Regions from separate parts of the Homo sapiens genome. Here all the other regions are linked to region 2. The links come from fine-mapping of genetic effects on gene expression. A gene starts in region 2. Each other region holds a variant in brackets. All regions are shown on one strand. Distances are from middle to middle. Region 1 overlaps CDC73 (cell division cycle 73). Region 2 holds the start of B3GALT2 (beta-1,3-galactosyltransferase 2). Region 3 has its middle 130 kb from the start of LINC01031.

What was found. PIP is the estimated chance that this variant, and not a neighbour inherited with it, causes the effect.
Region 1: its variant is fine-mapped to the expression of B3GALT2 in whole blood (TOPMed, PIP above 0.99).
Region 3: its variant is fine-mapped to the expression of B3GALT2 in whole blood (TOPMed, PIP 0.96).

Annotation. Positions count from the first base shown.
Region 1 is chr1:193,237,361-193,244,076 of GRCh38, reverse strand. The region is part of intron 15 of CDC73 (cell division cycle 73); the gene reads right to left. Among named protein-coding and RNA genes, the nearest start is that of B3GALT2, 54 kb to the right of the region's middle. The variant C/T (reference allele first, on the strand shown) is at 2,792.
Region 2 is chr1:193,183,190-193,189,905 of GRCh38, reverse strand. It overlaps B3GALT2 (beta-1,3-galactosyltransferase 2), which reads left to right and starts at 3,293. Exons shown (of 2, transcript NM_003783.3): 1 at 3,293-3,887. All of the region lies in intron 10 of CDC73 (cell division cycle 73), which reads right to left.
Region 3 is chr1:193,430,461-193,437,176 of GRCh38, reverse strand. No RefSeq gene overlaps it. Among named protein-coding and RNA genes, the nearest start is that of LINC01031, 130 kb to the right of the region's middle. The variant C/G (reference allele first, on the strand shown) is at 3,055.

The DNA of each region.
Region 1 (6,716 bases), 54 kb before region 2:
GCTTTTTCCCCCCAATTTTTTACTTTTTCACTAGCATATGATTATGATCAGTATCAACCTGGTATAAGAGGTTTTAAAGAGAAAACAATTGACTTTTAAAGTTTTTTCTGATAGCTATTTTATGGATTGCTTGTTTCATATTGCTTGCTAGCATATTGGCTTTTGATGTTAACAACTAATCAAGATTCAATTCTTAATAAACATTTAAAATGAATAATTTGTGCCCAGAAAAATAAACTTATTTCTAATTTATTTGCTTTTATAAATAAAAGTCTCTTCATCAGACATAAATTATTCATTTTGAATTTAATCAAATTCATTAAAGGGGCTACATGTAATAACATTCAAGAAACTTACTTTCAAAGTAGTATTCATGTGTAAAATAAATTTGTCAATTAAAAAAAATTTAAAACTCATGCATTCAGTGTAAATCAACATTTTAATCATTTCCATTCTGCTTAGGTGTTGCTTTTCTAACTTGTTCAACTATTTGCTAATCATTCTTCAGAATGCATCTAAGTTACATTTTTTAAAATGATCAAACTGAAGCCATAATGGCCTACAGTCTTCTTTAATAATTTCAACAGATTTCATCTTTATTGATATTTATTTTTCCACCAGAATAGACAACTTTTAAATTTAAAGCTAGGATACTAGAGTCCAAAAAGTGTAAGTCACTAATTTTTAAAAACATATAAAGTTTCACTCATACTTTATTCGCATGAAGCAATGATGCGAAACAAACTTACACCAACATATTATCATTAAAAAAAATCTTTCCTATTCAGAAAAAGTATTAAAAGTTTTTAAGCCTCTGGAAGTTAAAAACAAGAAGTAAGCTGGGCACGGTGGCTCACGCCTGTAATCCCAGCACTTTGGGAGGCCAAGGAGAGCGGATCCTGAGGTCAGGAGTTTGAGACCAGACCAACATGATGAAACCCCGTCTCTACTACAAATAGAAAAATTAGCCAGGCATGGTGGCGTGCACCTGTAATCCCAGCTACTCAGGAGGCTGAGGCAGGGGAACTGCTTGAACCTGGGGGTTGCAGGGAGCCAAGATTGCACCACTGCACTCCAGCCTGGGCAACAGAGCAAGACTCCATCTCCAAAAAAAAAAAAAAGAAGAAGAAGAAGAAGAAAAAGAAATAAAGTTCTTTTGTAAGAAGCCAGTTTTACCGCAGCACAATGAATTACAACTGCAAAATATTTCACACAACTCAGAATTGCTTGTTTTTGCAAACTTCATGAATGCTGCCAACATTTTTTGGGGAAAGCAACAAAGCAAAAGAGATCAAAGAGGTGCCCTTTTAATATTTAGATATACTGATCGCATGACAAATGATAAAGGGATAATACAGAAGATTATTAAATAAAAATATTTTTTCAATGGTAGCTAGCAATAATTTGAAGACATTTATCATTAAAAATATCTTGAGAGGGGCTTCAAGATAGCTAACTAGAGGCATCTGGCACCTGCCTCCTCCAAAAAGAAGAACCACCTTCTGTAAGTTACCAGGAGGGTCAACAAACAAAAAGAACCAAAACAGTGAGTAGATAATCACACTTTGAATAGATGATCTAAGAGAGTGCACTGGAATTCAACAGATAAAGTGAGCAGAAACACCTAAGGCAAGGAAGGAGAAGGGAAGCCAGGATGGGCTCACCAGTGAGATAAGGGTGAGAGACCCCTAATGGTCCACATTCCCACCTCAGACTCCTGCAATCCTAGCCAGGGGAGAGCCACATGACCCTCAGGGGTCCTGACACCAACACAGAAAGCTGCCTAGAGACCACAAGATGCTCCAGATAGGAGGTTCATGCTTGGGTCCTACACATGCCCTAAGCAGCTGCATGCAGCACAGCGCCATTTTGAGGGCTCGGCCCCCACCAGACTGCATCCTACCCTGGGGCCCAAGAGTCCTTACACCCTAAGTCGGGGTGGGGGAAGCACCTGAAGACAGCCCCCCAACCCCTGCAAACCTGCAGACAATGATGATATCTAAGTGCAAGCCACTGGCAGTGACCCCACAACTCCAACAGTCACGTATTTAAAAGCACCCTGAGGACAGATTCTCCCAATCACAGCCACCAACTGGCGGAAGCTCACATGCCCCAGATGCCTGCTTACTGGCCGTTGCCACTGAAAACAACGCTGCTCTCCCCAGCAGCAGGACCCAAGTGCTGGTAGCACACTGCCAAGGACCTGAAGAACACCCCACCCCTGCCTGCGACCTGGAGGCCTGAGGACAGGCCAACTTGGCTGGGCTCTGTCCTCCCCTTCTGCCGCCCTAGCAGTGCCTGAGCACACATTTTGGGGCCTGAGGGTGGCCCTGCAACATCCTCCACTGTTGGCACCTGAGCACTTTTCCCAGGGGCAGAAGACACGCCCAACCAACCTGCCACTACCACCACAACTGTTACCCACCCGCACACACCCCCTGTGGGCCTGCGCACTGTCCTGTCCAGCCCATCAAAGCCACAATTGGTAACAGTGTGGACCTCTGGGGAGCCAGAGGTTGCCCCTTCACTGCTACTGCCATTGCCCACTGCCCAGAAACTTGACCTGCTCACCCTCCAGGCTCACCACTGCCACTGCTGGCACCCAAGATGATGTCTGGACTTACTAGCACAGGTGCCAGCATACGTGGCCTTGGGACTCAAAAACAGGCAGGCTCAGCCTGCTGCTGCCACCACTGGGGCCCAAGGAATAGCCTGCCTGATGTCACTGACCCCAGCAAAACTTCACCACACCCTCCACTAACAAGCAAACCTTAAGCCACTGAGGAAACCA[C/T]AGACACCACTGACGCTGTTTATAGGTTAGAAATTACACAGCCAGTATGAAGAACCAAAGCCAAAGTGCCCCACCCAATCAAAATCATAGGTACATCTTCGGGGAAAAGTCCTCCCCTAAAAAAGCAAATTCAAAAAACTAGAAGAAGCAATGTTTATACCAGATGTGCAGATATCAACATAGGACACAAGAAACAGAAAAAGTAAGAAATTATGATACCTCCAAAAAAAAGAAAAACAGAATAATTCTCCAGCTACAGATCCCAATGAAAAATAAACTTAGGAAATATCAGAAAAAGAATTCAAAATAATGATGTCACAGAAACTGAGTGGAATACAAGAGAACACAGAAAAACACTGGAGAACTGCTTCAGGACACTGGTCGAGGCAAGGACTTTATGGCTAAGACCTCAAAAGCACAGGCAACAAAAATAGATGGGATTATATTAAAGTAAAAAGTTTCTGTACAGCAATGGAAACAATAAACAATGTGAAGAACAACCTGTTGAATGGGAGAAAATATCTGCAAACTATTCTTCCAACAAGGGACTAATATGCAAGAAACTCAACAATTAAAAAAAAATCCCATTAAAAAGTGGGCAAAGGACATGAACAGAAATTTCTCAAAAGGTAACATACAAATAAATGGCAAACAAATATATGAAAAAATGTTCAACATCACTAACCATCAGGGAAGTGCAGATCAAAACCACGATGAAATATCATCTTACCCCAATTAGAAGGGTTATTACTAAAAACAGAGTAACAGATGCTGGCAAGGATGCAGAGAAAAGGGAACTCCTACACTGTTGGTGGAAATATAAGTTAGTAGAGCCACTATGGCAAACAGTATGAAGATTTCTCAAAACTAAAAACAGAACTACTGGATGATCCAGCAGTCCTACTACTGGGTATTTTTCAAAAGGAAAGAAAATCAGTTTATCAAAGGGATACTTGCACCCCTTGTTTACTGTAGCACTATTCACAACAGTCAAGATCTGGAATCAACCTAAATCCATCAACAGATGAATAAAGAAAATGTAGTATATATACACACTGAAATACTGTGTGGCCATAAAAAAGAATGAAATCCTGTCATCTGTGGCAAGGCGACATGGACAGAACTGGAAGGTCATTCTATTAAGTGAAAGAAACCAGGCACAGAAAGACAAATTTTCCTATGTTCTCACTTTTATGTGGGAACGTTAAAAGTTGATCTCATGGAGGTAGACAGTAAAATGATAAGATACTAGAGGGTTGGAAGGGTGTGTGTATGTGTGTGGCAGGAGGGAAGGAGAGGGATGAAAGGTGGTTGATTAATGTGTACAAACATACAGGTAGAAGAAATAAATTCTTTTTTTAATTTCTAACTTTTAAGTTCTGGGGTACATGTGCAGGACTGTTACACAGTTAAACATATGCCATGGTGAACAGCTGCACAAAGGAATAAATTCTAATGTTCAAAAGCAGAGTAGGAGGCTATACTTAACAATAATGTATTATATATTTCTAAACAGCTAGAAGAGATGACTTGAAATGTTCCCAAAACACAGAAATAATAAACACTCAAGGTGATACATACCCTAAATACTGACTTGATCATTACACATTCTATCCATGTAACAAAATATCACATGTACACCATAAATATGTACAAATATTATGTATCAACAAAAAAAAATTTTAAATGTCAACCAACAAATAAATATAGCCACGTCAAGTATAACATATCTAAAATATATCCAGATATCAGCTTAAACTTATTCTAAATTTGTAAAGATTTTATTTGGCAATTTTATGCAAATCAGTATTTAATCTTCTCTCAAACGATGTATTTCATTATAATTATGCAACATTAACAAAATATAATATAATTTTCTATCAAGGCCCACAGAGATGCTCCCAAATACCCTCAGTTTTCCCCCAATGCTGTACAGTGTAATCTGATGGAGAAAACAACTGGAAGCCAGAAGAGTGAAAGCAGAAAGATCAACCAAGAGCTAAGATAATATACTCCCAAGTTTCTGGCTTAGGCAAATTACTGAAAAGGACTAACAGATAATAAGAAATAGTTTGAGGAATAAGGAAGAGAGTAAAACCATCAATTCCATTTGGAAAAGGTTGAGTTTGATGTACCAATGAGATATCACAGAGAAGTTATCTCATAGTGAGTGAGGTATATAGGTCCAGAATATTGAGCTAAAGACATAATTTTTAGAATGAGGGAATATAAATGGTAATTGAAAGCTATGAGATCTTCTTGAGAGGGTATTTAAAATTATGGGAGAAGAGAAATAGGGACATAACCATATACATTTGATCCTTGAACAATACAAGTTCCAATTGAGTGGGTTCATTTATACATGGATTTTCTTCCGCCTCTGCCACCTGGGACAGCAAGACTAACCCTTCCTCCTCCTCAACCTACTCAATGTGAAGACAATGAAGATGAAGACCTTTATGATAACCCACTCCCACTTAATGAACAGTAAATGTATTTTCTCTTTCTTACGATTTTCTTAACGTTTTCTTTTTCTCTACTTACTTTATCATAAGAATACAGTATACAATGCTAACATGTAAAATATTTGTTAATCGACTGTTTATGTTATCAGTTAAGGCATCCAGTCAACAGTAGGCTATTAGTATGTATGTTTGGGATAAGTCAAAAGTTATATGGGAGTTTTCAACTGCATGATATTGAAGGGTCCATTCCAGTTGATAACCAGAGGAAAAGTAGCAAGAAAATCTGAGACAAAGTGTAACAGGTACTTGGAAAGTAACTTAAAAAGGAGTAAAGGAGTCAACAGAATCAAATTCTGGTAAGTTAACAGTATCCAATATTTGAGTCACTGGTGACTTCAGTGAAAACAGCTTTAGTACAGAGCAAGAGCCAGACTACAGGGGATATGAACAGAAAATGAGTTGGTAGAGACAATTCTTTCCAAAGTGCAGCTATAAAAGGAAAAAGAAGAAGCTAGGGGAAAGGGTGAGGTCAACGGTAAGGGTTTTGTTTTGTTGTTTAAGAAGGAAGGGGAAAGAGTATTCTTAAACGCTGAGAAAAAGGAGTCAGTATAGAAGGAACAGGTGAAAGAGAAAGAACAGTTCATGAAAGTAAATCACTGATGATTGTTAAAATTCTCTAAATTCTTATCTAAATTTCAGAAGACTAAATTTGAACAAAAATTAAAACTTTATATTCTTAATGAATTTCATACAACATTTATATCTTAAAGACATCCTAATCATTTTTTGTTGAAACATTATTCAACAAGGCAAGCAAGTAGGTAAAAAAGAATTCTCGTTGACATTTTACTTTCATTAAAATTCTCATTCCCTTTTTATTTAACTTCCCATTTACCAACTCTGTGTATCACTCAAGTTTCAGAAATAACATAAAAAGCTATCATAATGTCAGTTGCCGGGCCCAACCTGCAGATCCTGGCCGAACGACAGAAGGAAAATGTACGCAGACACAGGTTTTTTCCTGGACGTGCAGCTAGGGGACTGGGCCACTCACAGACGTCGAGGAGGATGCCGTAAAGAGTCACAGCAGCCGCAGCCCTGACATGCCAGCATCTTTTTATTACAGATTTAATGACAAAGGCTTTGAGTCAACACACTTGTGGGTAATTAACGTGGTCACCACTGCCTCGCCACCCCACCACACCACCTCCAACCCGCCACCCCTACCTCCCGACTCCTGCAGTTGATTAAAGGCCACGTTCTGGGAGGCCTAAGTAAACTAACTTATCTAGATCAATTTCTTTACATCCCCAGGTTATCTAATCTTTGCTATCAGGCTCCGGGTAAGAGAATCCAGTTGACTTCAGCCAAATTATCTTTCAAAGCTTTTGCAAAACCTCCCAGCCTTCCAAGAAGGTTTGCATCTTTTTTCTATTTCTCCCACCACCCTGACCAATTTC
Region 2 (6,716 bases):
TTGTTGAATGTACATACATAGATAAACAGATGATGTAACTCCATGAGTTACTATTTAGTAGCCACTTGAACAGCAGATTTACATCTGATTCAACATGTAATAATCATTCAAAACCATTAACTACATGAATACAAAAATAATTATTCCTATACCCAGTAAAAACTGACAATTAGGAGGCATTACAATTCCTGTCTTTAAATTCTGACTCCTTGAAGTCTATACTAGACATGCCCAGGAAAATGCTAAAACCGGCCTGGACAGCTCTGGCCATGATGCACATAGTAACGGCCACCTATTTTGCCATCACGGATGTGTTGTAGGATTAAAAATAGACTTATGCAAGTGACAATTACAAGCCATTTATAACTATAAAACTTAACAAAATAGCTGCCAGTTTGCTGAATCTGAAAAAGAAACCTGTCACATTTACTGAATTAGTTTAACCATAGAATTCAGATGTTAAAAGAAACTAGACTAAAGGAAGAACTTCTACAAGCTCTCCTGTCATAAGATTTTTACAGTTTCTCTTGACTGGAAACATGTAGGTTGCTACAAAAAGTTACTAAAGGAACTTTTATCTCACATCTGCCCTGTTTTCCTGAACTTTACGTAAAGTTCTTAACTAGCTTAACTTAAATTTAACAAACAGGTTGGCTGGGCACTGTGGCTCACGTCTGTAATCCTAGCACTTTGGGAGGCCAAGGCAGGTGGATCACCTGAGGTCAGGAGTTTGAGACTGGCCTGGGCAACATAGTAAAACCTCACTTCTAGTAAAAATACAACAATTAGCCGGGTGTGGTGGCACACGCCTGTAATCCCAGGTACTCGGCAGGCTGAAGCACGAGAATCTCTTGAACCTGGGAAGCAGAGGTTGCAGTGAGACAAGATCGTGCCACTGTACCCCAGCCTGGGCAATAGAGCAAAACTCTGTCTCCAAAAAAAAAAAAAAACAGACAGACAGAAAGAAAGAGGTTGCAGCTGTACTTTTAAAGTATGAAGTAAATTCCAGTTAAGTACATAGGCACCTTTTGTTAGTAATATTTGGAAGTTTCTTGCTGTTTAAATACTTGTCCCATAACAAGCAGTTCGGGGCGGGGGGGTCCCACTGGAAATTCAGGGACTCAATCCGATACTGGAGGGACCCACTAATGAATACGTTACCCATATAACTCTCTTAATAATCAAAATCTATAATAATCCAGGGAGACATTAAAAAAATCCAATCAAAAGAACTGGCAAAAGAATAATAATTATTTAGTCCTTTCCTGGAGAAAGGGGTAGGGAATGTCTCTAAATCAACTTTGTATCCCCTATACTTAATAAGCTATGCCTAAATGCACATGTTGGTACACAGTAGTTAATCAATATGTACCTGTTGAAAAAGTGAAAATATAAACATTCATTTATTATTCTATTAATGATTCCTGGGTATGCTGCGCCAGTGTTCAGAAAAAAAAAAAATCCCACAATTTCTCTAGCAGTGCCATGTAATAAAAAGTTTAAGAACAGAGAATAATGATAGTACTAGATAGATTTAAAAAGAAAACAAAAACACAGAGGATAAGAATTTAGATAATCTTGCTTCAATTCCCAGCTTGGCCTCTATTCTTATCAGTATTTATCTGACATTTGGACTATTTTACAACTCCAGGCACTGGTTCTGCATCTTTTAAGTGGGTATTACAATAATAAAATTATTAGAAAAGAGCCATTTGCATAACAGCTCAAGTAAGCTTAGCACGCAATCTGATTTTCAGTAAATACTCCATAAATGGTCATTGTGGCTAGCTTCATAGTCAAATCCTATGTAAAGAATCACTGATAAATAAATACTGATCTACAAAAACACATCTGTACTTCTGGAAAATAAGTTATTTTAAGTAAGTTCTTAAGCATTACTCTGTTAACTAGTAAACTAATTTTAAAAACAAAACGGTAGTGAGTGAGAATTGCAGTATGGGTGGATATAGACTACAAGGAAGTTGGGTTTTAGTCCTCTCCTTCAAACTTAACTAGGAAAAGTCAAAGCTCAGTCTAGGCTTTAGGTTTCCTATTTATAAAATTCTTTTTTTTCTTTAACGATCCTTCTAACATTTCTAATACAGTGGGGTTCTTAAAACTACAAAGCACATTTCATCAGCAAAGCTCAAAAATATGTGGACAAAATTTTTTTTAATATCAGAGAAAACAAATTCATATTCATTTGAAATAGCATATATTAATGGTGGAGGCAGTGAGATGAAGAATATGTATATAACTGTTAACCTTTAGCTTAAGCTCCAAAACTATAACTTTCTAGGACTGAATTACTGTCCCTAGAGTCACAGAGGAAAAACTGATAATAAAGGCTTTTTACTACAACAAAAAATTTAAAAAAACCTTCCCTACTGCTCTGCAGTAAGAAAAGAAGGTGCCAGCCCCAGAAACTAACCATATTAGAAAAATCTCAGTGAGTGTGTAGTGTTAATAAAATCTGCCTCATGGCAAGTTATTAAATCTTTCTGAAACATTAGAATAAGTAAACATAATTAGTAAAATCTCATTACCCCCAGATCCTGTACAAGTGTGCTATATCTATTACATCATTTTACTGAATTCTACGATACATGTAATTTTAAAGGGAAGGAAAAATAAATAAAAAATAAATGACAACATTAAAAAGTGATTTAAAATAAAGTTTTCTGCCATCAAGAACACCAAAAACCACATAAGAGCAAAAAAGAAGTGGGCTGTATCACATCATGCATTAGTAAAGTAATCCAAGACAGCTTATTTATACAAACCCCAGAAAACGGGGGGGGGGATCTAAATTACAAAGATACATGGTTTCAATAGAAACCATAGGTCTTAACTACATATTAGTAAAAAATCAAGAGCAATTTGAAAGCAGAGAAAAAAAACTTCAAGAAGAGAATGCACTGAAGGGGTTAAATTACACCAACTTACACACAAAAGCTTATACTGCTTACACCCTACAAAAGCATGTAAGAAACATGAAAACCAACATCTAACACAGAAAACACTTAGAAAGCCTGTACTTAAGAATAAAGTTAAAAAAGGAAGTAAGCTGGAAAAAATAAAATCATAACCATTTCATAATCATCACATTTTCAAATTATTCACTCATCACTACACTTGCATTCAACATATATAATTTATCACATAAAAGCAAAATCTCTAAGCTTCTCCCTACCTTAGGTTTTTAGTCAAAATGAATGCAAACAATCACGTGGGATTCAGCCAAGCAGTGACGTTAAATTCTGCTCTGTCAGAGAGAGCATCTGTCAAGCCCACATTTAAACTGCTGCCTGCCTGTGCAGCAGCTGAGGAACCGTGGATTTCATATTATAGACTAAAACCCCATTAAAACTGCTCAAAATCCTTCCTGCAGCTGCCAGGCAACAACGAAAGAAGAGAGGTAAATCCTATTCTTTTCCAATACAACTGAAGCACTACATTTTAGCTCTGGCTGCTTTACATTGCAGCTCAGTGTTATTAGTAGAAATATGGATACTGAGACGAGAACACAGCACTGCATTGTCCAGCCAGGAAAATAGCAGATGTAAAAAGCTTCAATGCATCAACTGTCGGGAAGAGTCAACAGTGCTACAAGCAGAACGGGCAACTACAGCTCTTTTGTTTAACGAAAGAGAGAAAATGAAAGAAAGGGAAAATTTCAGAAGACTAGGACCCATATGAACAAGGAGGGTAACTCGAAGACAAGCAGACAGATGGACACTTTGGATACTGTGAAAAGCAATCGCAGGAGGCAGACTGTTGGGGGATGTGCGCATGTTCGATAGCATCTTTTTTGCTGAAGTGATGGCGTGCCAAAAGTATTTTCAGTGGGCATAATCCTCTTCACATAAATGGCCTGACCAAGGAAGGTATGTCAATATCTTGTGTATGATAGTCATTTAAATGTGTTACCTTTTTATAGCCCTGGAGGCACTAATACCTGATAAGCAAGTTCATACAGCTCACTGCCCTTGAAACTATGAAAAGGTTTCTTAATATCTGATTTTAAAATTTGTCATTGTTTAGAAGACAAGCTGTCACTGCTTTATGCAGCTAAATATGTAGCTTGGAGTAATTCTGGGTAATAGACATCAGAGGGAAAAGGCAAATAAGAAGAAGATGTGTTTAAAGGATTCCTTAAGAAATTAAACTTAAAAAAAAATCTGTAGCCCTTTACAAAAAACACAGCAATATTCTATCAAATTAGGTCAAACTGAATCCTTATCTAGTAAATTAAATGCTCTCTTAAAAATGGCTATCAAAAGACACAATGCAGTGAAATTTCATTAAATAGTAGCAAGGAAAACCTTAAGAGTTTTTTTTTCAAAGTCCTTTTAAAACAAAACCTTAATATGTAACAGCTTTTAGTAACAAAATCTTCCCCAACATCTCCCTAAATGAAGATAATGAACACAACCAAAGAGAGTATCAACAAATTTTAAATATTACCAAGCTACAAGAAGATACTAAAAGGAAAGCATTAACATAAGATCACATAAGGTAGTGTGAGTTTATGCATAACCCCACAATAGAGCCTCGTGTTATTATAGTGACCATGAATAGAACTTTAAACAAAGGGACATCAATAGTGGCTTTAAAAATTAACTATTTTAAATAGCTTACATTTTATGTAAAAGACTGATTCCAAATGATCAAATTTAACGTTGTCTCTGATTATCATTTCAGAAGTGAAATTCAAAAACATAATATGGAAATACTTTGATACAAAAATATCCACAAATGGCAATACAAGGTCAAAAAATTAAATATAAATGTAGCTACTATGCTTCCAGGCTATATTAATATGCAGTAATGAACTACCGCCACTATATGTGTGTGCAGGGCACAGATAAACCAAATAAACTATTTTAGCAACAATCATAGAACAGCAACTCAGGGCTCAAGAACTTAAAGATATTTCTAAAATTCTACAAATCTATCAAAGATCCTGATTTTTCCTCAATTTCACAACACAACTCAGTAATTATCTAATAATCACAAAAGGCAAACATTTTTTAAAAATATGTAAGTACTGCATTCCAAAATGAAGATTAAACAAGTTTACCAGACTCTATTACACCTCAACATCACTCTCACCCATGAATTTTTATTCTAATAAAGACTAATAATAAATAGTACTAAAAAATATGGTTGTAAAAATTTCAAGTCCCTCTTGGTACCTTAATCTCTCAATATTGAAGTCACCAATTAAGCAGTTTTATAAGCTATACATCTCAAAACAAAAGTGTAAGTTTTTCTATTAAACCATCACCAACAGACTAAAGAGATCAACACTTTTAAAAGCCAAATGATAAAAACTGAGTGTGTACTGAACAGCATTTTACAGTAACATTCTCCCCATGAACTTCATCCACAAGCTATAAATACACATTAATAATGTGAAGATATCAAAAAAGAAGAGATAAACCAAAGCTATTTCTCTTCTAAAAATGTAAAAGTGCAGAACTATTTTGCATACTACTGAACTTTCTTGTTTTGCTCTCTCTTTTTAAGAATTAAAATACAACAGGCAATAACTGGAGAATAATTTTATCATTTAATAAAAAGCAGGCATGGTTATTTTAATTTTATATTCTTTTTAACAAAAAAATTTATAAGACCTGAGAATCTTTTAATAAGGAATTTTTTAAAGGCTAGACACATGCACTTCATTTATCAATGGGAGATTTATAGTTATATATGGATTTAATATCTCAACAGCTTAACATCTAAAACATACAAATACCATGAAGTCTAAATTAAGATGCATCTCTATCACATACTGTTACAAAATCATATTAGGACCAAAACTATGTATTTATGCTACATTACAATATGCAATAATTTGCTGTTTTCTGTAATACTAAAATACTTTAGAGACATCTTCAGGTATATTGTTCTTATAAAAGCAACATAAATTATGATTATTTTCCATCATTTATTTACTCAGTCCTTTAACTCAAACATCCATTCAAACATCTGACCTTATTGTTTACTCCTTCTTACACCATCAAATTTACACTTTAAAAAAAATCTGTATAATTGGACTTCAACCAGATTCCAAGTATTATCATATCAGCAGAAAACAGATAACTTATCTTTGTAACACTTAGAACAGATTATCAAATAAATTTTAAAAGCAACTTTTGTTTCTTTTGAATTTACATACATAACCCTTATATCTACTGATATCCTTATGAAGTGGAGCGGAGAGTCATTATTATTTACCAAATATGTCATTTGGAAATAAAAGCTTAAAAATAGTTCCCTGGTCTAAAAAGAATGGCCAGCTATTTAAAAGTACAAGAAGGAAAACACTGAGTTTCTAAATCAGAATGCTCAGCTCTATTATTTTCAGCTTAGCTTACAGCAGAACTATGTTTTGTTGGTACAGTGAATAGCCTTGGTTTTCATTACACTAATGCTGAGTTTAAATTCATATAAACAAATTCTAACAAATAGCATACTAGATGATTTGCTTTTAAAATTCCAAACTTAAAAAAATTGTTCACATCTTTCAAAATGCTTAATTTTTTTACATTTTAGAAATATTATAACTTCTAAAAGTACTCTGTAATCTCAGAAACTAGAAATTTCAAACGCTGGTGCCTATATGGTTGGACCTTAGATATTTGTTCAAATTCCCACCTACTTGCTCCTCCTAGTGGCTGCTACTATAATAGCACTTTCATTCATTT
Region 3 (6,716 bases), 250 kb before region 2:
TGCTGTGTCCACTCAGAGTTAAATGGATTAAGGGCGGAGCAAGATCTGCTTTGTTAAACAGATGCTTGAAGGCAGCATGCTCATTAAGAGTCATCACCACTCCCTAATCTCAAGTACCCAGAGACACAAACACTGCGGAAGGCCGCAGGGTCCTCTGCCTAGGAAAACCAGAGACCTTTGTTCACTTGTTTATCTGCTGACCTTCCCTCCACTATTGTCCTATGACCCTGCCAAATCCCCTTCTGCGAGAAACACCCAAGAATGATCAATAAAAAATAAAAAAAATAAAAATAAAAATAAAAAAAATAAAAAAATTTAACAGATTTAAATAATTAAAAAGAATCAAACAAAAATTCTAGAGCTGAAAAATGTAGTTTACATGCTGAAGAACGCATCAGTCTCTTAACAACAGAATTGATCAAGTCAAGTAGTTCACTTGGTAAAGGAAAATTAGTGAGCTTGAAGACAGGCTATTTGAAAATACACTGTGAGAGGAAACAAAAGAAAAAAGAATAAGAAACAACAAAGCACAACTACAAGATCTAGAAGATAGCCCCAAAAGGACAAATCTAAGAGTTATTGGCCTTAAAGAGAAGGTAGAGAGAAAGACGTAGAAAGTTTAATCAAAGGGATAATATTAGAAAATTTCCCAAACCTGGAGCAACACATCAACATTCAAGCACAAGAAGGTTATAGAACACCGGCCGGATTTAACCCAAAGAAGACTGCCTCAGGGTATTTAATAAAAAAGATTTATCAATAATATCAAAATCTAGAGAGATAATGAATGGGGTAAGTTCTTGGTGATCTTTGGAGGAGTCAGTTTGAGAAACACAGCACCATCAATTGCCAGATTGCAATGGGTTAAATGGTGGTGAGGAAGCCAAAGCTGGAAATGTAACTCATCCTTTGCAGCAGTTCATGCAGCTATGATTCTTGTGGAACATATGTAGCAGTATCCTTGACTATGGAACCTAAGTTGAACAATATGCAAATGCCCCTGCAAACAGAAGTTGTCTTATAGAAATAGATCAGCAAAGAATCTAAGTCAGTTTGGGGGGTGTTAGGCCATTCTTGCATTGCTAAACAGAAATACCTGAGACTGGGCAATTTATAAAGAAATGAGGTTTAATTGGCTTGTGGTTCTGCAGGCTGTACAGGAAGCATGACGCTGGCATCAGTTCAGCTTCTGGGGAAACCTCAGGAAATTTACAATCATGGTGAAAGACAAATGGGGAGCAGACACATCACATGGCCAGAGCAGAAGCAAGAGAGGGAGAGGAGAGGTAACACACACTTTTAAATGACCAGATCTCACTCACTATCATGAGGACAGCACCAAGGGGATGGTACTAAACCATTCATGAGAAATTCACCCCCATGAACAAATCACCTCCAACCAGGCCCCACCTCCAATATTGGGGATTATAATACAACATGAAATTTGGATGGGGACACAGATCCAATCCATATCAGGAGGAGTTCCTTTCTTATTATAATTATCAAATTCTGCCTTATATTAACTTACATGTGGGCCAATCTTTTGCCTCTACTCTCTCCTCCTTGGGGGAACTTAGGACATCAGCTGCATCTATTAAAATGTCTTCTTCAGGCTGGAGACAACAAAGTAAAAAGTCAAAATTAAATTGAATAAGTAATTTCTAAAATGTAAACATATACAGTGACCTAATCGAATGAATGGCATAGAGCTGTCAAGTGTGATGCTAGAAAATTCCATCAGCTGACCTTGAACCACCTTTAATTTGATCTCTGGTCTCCACAGTGAGTTCTCCTTCTAGACACATACTCTCTTAATAGCAAGGGCACTATTTTTCTGAGTGCATGTGTGCAACAAATTTACCTTCTGTTATTAAAGCCTTACTACTCTTTGTCTTTCTGGCCTACTAATGGCCTTAGTAATATGATGCATTCATAATTTTTGATTAGATTTGAACCCAGGTGGCCTATATATATGACATACAATTAAACTGTATTAGTTTTGATAATGCTAATTCAGAACTTCCCCTATTCAGGTGTACAATTGAGCTTACCTTTCTGTTCTTCAGGAGAAAACATTTTTATAATTAATTCAAACTCTCATCTAGATGACAATGTGTTTTTTTTAAATAAATTAATTAAAAGAATGGAAAACTTTTCAAATTGTCAATCTCTTTTCACCTTTAAAATAAGCAAAGTGATTGGGTTTCAAACAGTTAAAATGCAGATTCCTGCATTCCACTCCAAACCTACTGAATTAGTATCAGAATTTTAAATCTATACATGTAAAAATCTCCCTAGTAAATCTCCCTAATTAATCTTATGATTAATCAAGATGAGACCACTGTACTAAATTATATTTAAAGATTCCATATTAGTCAATTTAGCCTAAGTTATGCTGTGGCAACAAATTACTCCAAAGTCTCAGTAATTTACAAGGAATAAAAGTTTATTTCTTATTCACTTAATACACATATTCTTATTCTTAATACATGTATATTATAGTTCAACTAAGACTCTGCTCCAGGTCTATCATCTTCACTCCAGAGCTCAGGCTGACAGTGTAGCTTTACTTGGAACTTTGCCTGCCTTAACCAGAGGAAAAAAATAATACAGAAAATCATGAGTTGTCACATGGCCACTCCTGAACTCAACAGAGTAGGGCTGTATAATCTTTCAGGGAGAGGAAATGAGTAATTGTCTACCACTGGGGCCTCCAACTCTAAAAGCTGAACAATAACATTAATGGCTTCCATGTAGATATTAAAAGTGATATTGATAAGAGTTTTCTTTTTAACGTCTTTATTGAGGTATAATTGATATACAAATAATTGTACATATTTAATGAATACAATCTGATGGGTTTGGACACATGCATACGTATGTGAGACCATCACCACAATCAAAGTAATAAACATGTTCATCACCCCCAAAAGTTTCCTCATGCCACCTTGTAGGTGTTTGTTTGTTTGTTACGTTTTATTTTATGGTAAAAAACACAACATGATATCTACCCTCTTAACAAAATGTTTAACTGTTGATATGGTTTGGCTGTGT[C/G]CCCACCCAAATCTCACCTTGTAGTTTCCATAATCCCCAGGTGTCCTGAGAGGGACCCAATGGGAGGTAATTTAATCACTGGGGAGGTTACCCTTATGATAGTGAGTGAGTTCTCATGAGATTTGATGGTTTTCTAAGGGGCTTTTCCCTCTTTTGCTCAGCACTTCTTCTTGCTGCCACCATGTAAAGAAGAACGTGTTTGCTTCCTCCTCCACCATAATTGTAAGTTTCCTGGGCCTTTCCCAGTCCTATGGAACTGTGTTTCAATTAAATCTCTTTCCTTCCTTGCAGCATGAGAACAGACTAATACAGTAAATTGGTACCAGAAGTGGGGTACTGCTGAGAAGCTAACCAAAAATGTAAAAGTGACTTTGGAACTGGGTAACAGGCAGAGACTGGAACAGTTTGGAGAGCTCAGAAGAAAATAGGAAAATGTGGGAATGTTTGGAACTTTCTAGAGACTTGTTGAATGGCTTTCACAAAAATGCTGATAGTGATATGGACAACAAAGCCCAGGCTAAGGTGCTCTCAGATGGAAATGAGGAACTTGGGAACTAGAGTTAAGGTCACTCTTGCTATGCAAAGAGACTGGCGGATTTTGCCCCTGCCCTAGCGGTCTCTGAAACTTTGAACTTGAGGGAGATGTTTTAGGGTATCTGGCAGAAGAAATTTCTAAGTGGCAGAGCATTCAAGAGGAAACAGAGCATAAAGGTTTGAAAAATTTGTAGCCTGAAGATGAGGTAGAAAATAAAATCCCATTGTCTGAGAAGAAATTCAAGCCAGCAGCAGAAATTTGCATAAGTAACAAGGAGCCAAATGCTAATTGCCAAGACAATGGAGAAAATGTCTCCAGGGCATGTCAGAGACCTTCACAATAGGGCATGTCAGAGACCTTCACAACAGGGCATGTCAGAGACCTTCACAGGCCCAGAGGCCTAGGAGGGTAAAATGGTTTCCTGTGCTGGGTCCAGGACCCCTGTGCTATGTACAGCCTTAGACTTGGTGCCCTGCATCCCAGACGCTCCAGCTATGACCAAAAGGAGTCAACATACAGCTCAGGCCATTTCTTCAGAGTGCAGGCCCCAAGCCTTGGCAGCTTACATGTGGTGTTGGGCCTGCAGGTACACAGACATAACAAGAATTGAGGTTTTGGAACCTCTGCCTAGATTTCAGAGGATGTATGGAAACACCTGGATGTCCAGACAAAGGTGTGCTGCAGGGGCAGAGCCCTCACAGAGAACCTCTTCTAGGGCAGTGCAGAAGGAAAATGTGGGGTGGGAGCCCCCACACATGGGGCACTGCCTAGTGGAGCTATGAGAAGAGGGCCATGGTCCTCTAGACCCCAGAATGTTAGATCAACCCACAGCTAGCACCATGCACCTGGAAAAGCCACAGACACTCAATGCCAGCCCATAAAAGCAGCTGGCAAGGGGGCTGTATCCTGCAAAGCCACAGGGTCGAGCAGCCCAAGACTATGGGAACCCACTTCTTGCATCAGTGTAACCTGGACGAGACATGGAGTCAAAGAGATCATTTTGGAGCTTTAAGATTTGAGTGCCCCACTGGATTTCAGACTTGCATGGGACCTGCCATCTCTTTTTTTTGGCCAATTTTTTTGGCCAATTTCTCCCATTTGGAATGGCTGTATTTACTCAATGCCTATACTCCCATCGTACCTAGGAAGTAACTAACTCGTTTTGATTTTACAGGCTCATAGGCAGAAGGGACTTGCCTTGTCTCAGATGAGACTTTGGACTGTGGACTTCTGATTTAATGCTGAAATAAGATTTGCGGGGACTGGTGGGAAGGCATGATTGGTTTTGAAATTTGAGGACATGAGATTTGGGAGGGACCAGGGGTGGAAAGGTATGGTTTGGCTGTGTTGCCACCCAATTCTCATCTTGAATTATAGTTCCCATAATCCCTACGTGTCCTGGAAGGGACCCAGTGGGAGGTAATTGAATCATGGGGGTGGTTACCCTCCTGCTGTTCTTGTGATAGTGAGTGAGTTCTCATGAGATCTGATATTTTTATAAGGGGCTTTTCCCACTTTTTCTCAGCACTTCTGCTTGCTGCTGCCATATGAAGAAGGACGTGTTTGCTTCCCTTCTACCATTATTGTAAGTTTCCTGGGGCCTCCCTAGCCCTGTGGAACTGTGAGTCCATTAAACCACTTTTCTTCATAAATTACCCTGTCTTGAGTATGTCCTTATAACAGCATGAGAACAGACTAATACAAGTGTACAATACAGTATTGTTAAATATAGGCACTGATAACCTATAGGTCACATTTGACAGGCTTCCAAATTAACCAGCTGGGGGAGGTCTTATGATTCATGGCTTACATCCTGTCACTAAGTAAATAATCTTATTGTGAGTCCCTCAAATTGTTGATGTACTGATTAATATGTAACCTACTGACACTGAAAAGGACAGTCATTTATGTCTGAACCATGAAGTTTTGTTGATTTGTTTCTGAATCACGAAGTTTTAATGATTGTCTTGCATGTACACATTTTAGCCTATATGTTGCATATGTATTCTACCCTCCAAAGAAAAAGGACAACTCTGATATGAGGAGCCCCCCTCACTTCTCCTAAACTTTCTTATAAAAGCCTTCCAATGTGTAACAGACTGAAACACACCTAACTTTGTGGGTGTGTCTTCCCAGGCCAATCCTCACATTTGGCTTCCAATAAACTTTTATCAAATTATTTCTGCTTTAACAACCTTTATATTTTGGTCAACAGTACTACGTTGCAGAACAGACCTCTGGAACTTATTCATATTACATAATCAAAATTTTAATGATTCCTATACTAGTTTGTTAACCTTGATTCTTAAGTTGGGCTCTTCTAAAAGCAGATGCTTAGACAAGGACTCAGAGGCAGATAGACAATTTGGAAGGTAAACTCAGAAAGACAGGTAAGAAAGTTAGGAAAGTGAGACAGGGAAGGTAGAAAAATGAATAAAAAGCAAGAGGAGCTCAGTCTAGCTGGAGATCCTCTGAGAAACCCCAGAGCCAAACTTCAGGACCCCAGGACCCTATCACTACAAGACAGGGAGGCTACGGCATGTGTCCACCACTGCCACCCCTATAGATTAAGGATTGCCTCCCAGGGATTAGCTCCCTCAAACTTTCTGGTTTATCTTTTACAGCTGAGCAAGCTCTAGTAACAATGAGAAAGCCCTCAGGGAAAGGGAAATATGCAGTTGCTTAAGGTGGGAATCTGTCAGTGGGTTGGGACTGTACATGGGTATAATAAAAATCAGGGAGCCCACAGGATATGGGAGGTGCATCAACAGCATTTGTTATACCCAGTTCCAAATTGACCTTTATTTGCTATTGGATATTTTGTTATCACACATTTCATTTTTAAGGTCAATCTGACCTGTCCCACAGTTAGTCCAAATCATTTTCTTTCTCTATTCACTATTAGTACTTAATAATGCCTTTGGTTTCACCTCAAGCATCAACTCAAATTAAATGTGAGTGTCTACCTGAGATACGTGTCAAGAAAAACCTGAGGTCAAGTTTGGTGCACAGTGACCAATTAAGTGTTTTTCATGGACAAAGGACAAAGAATATGGTTAGATTTGCCATATATCTGTTATCCTTTGAGTGCAGTAGTGGGGAAAAAAGTCTGTGCTAAGTAAACATT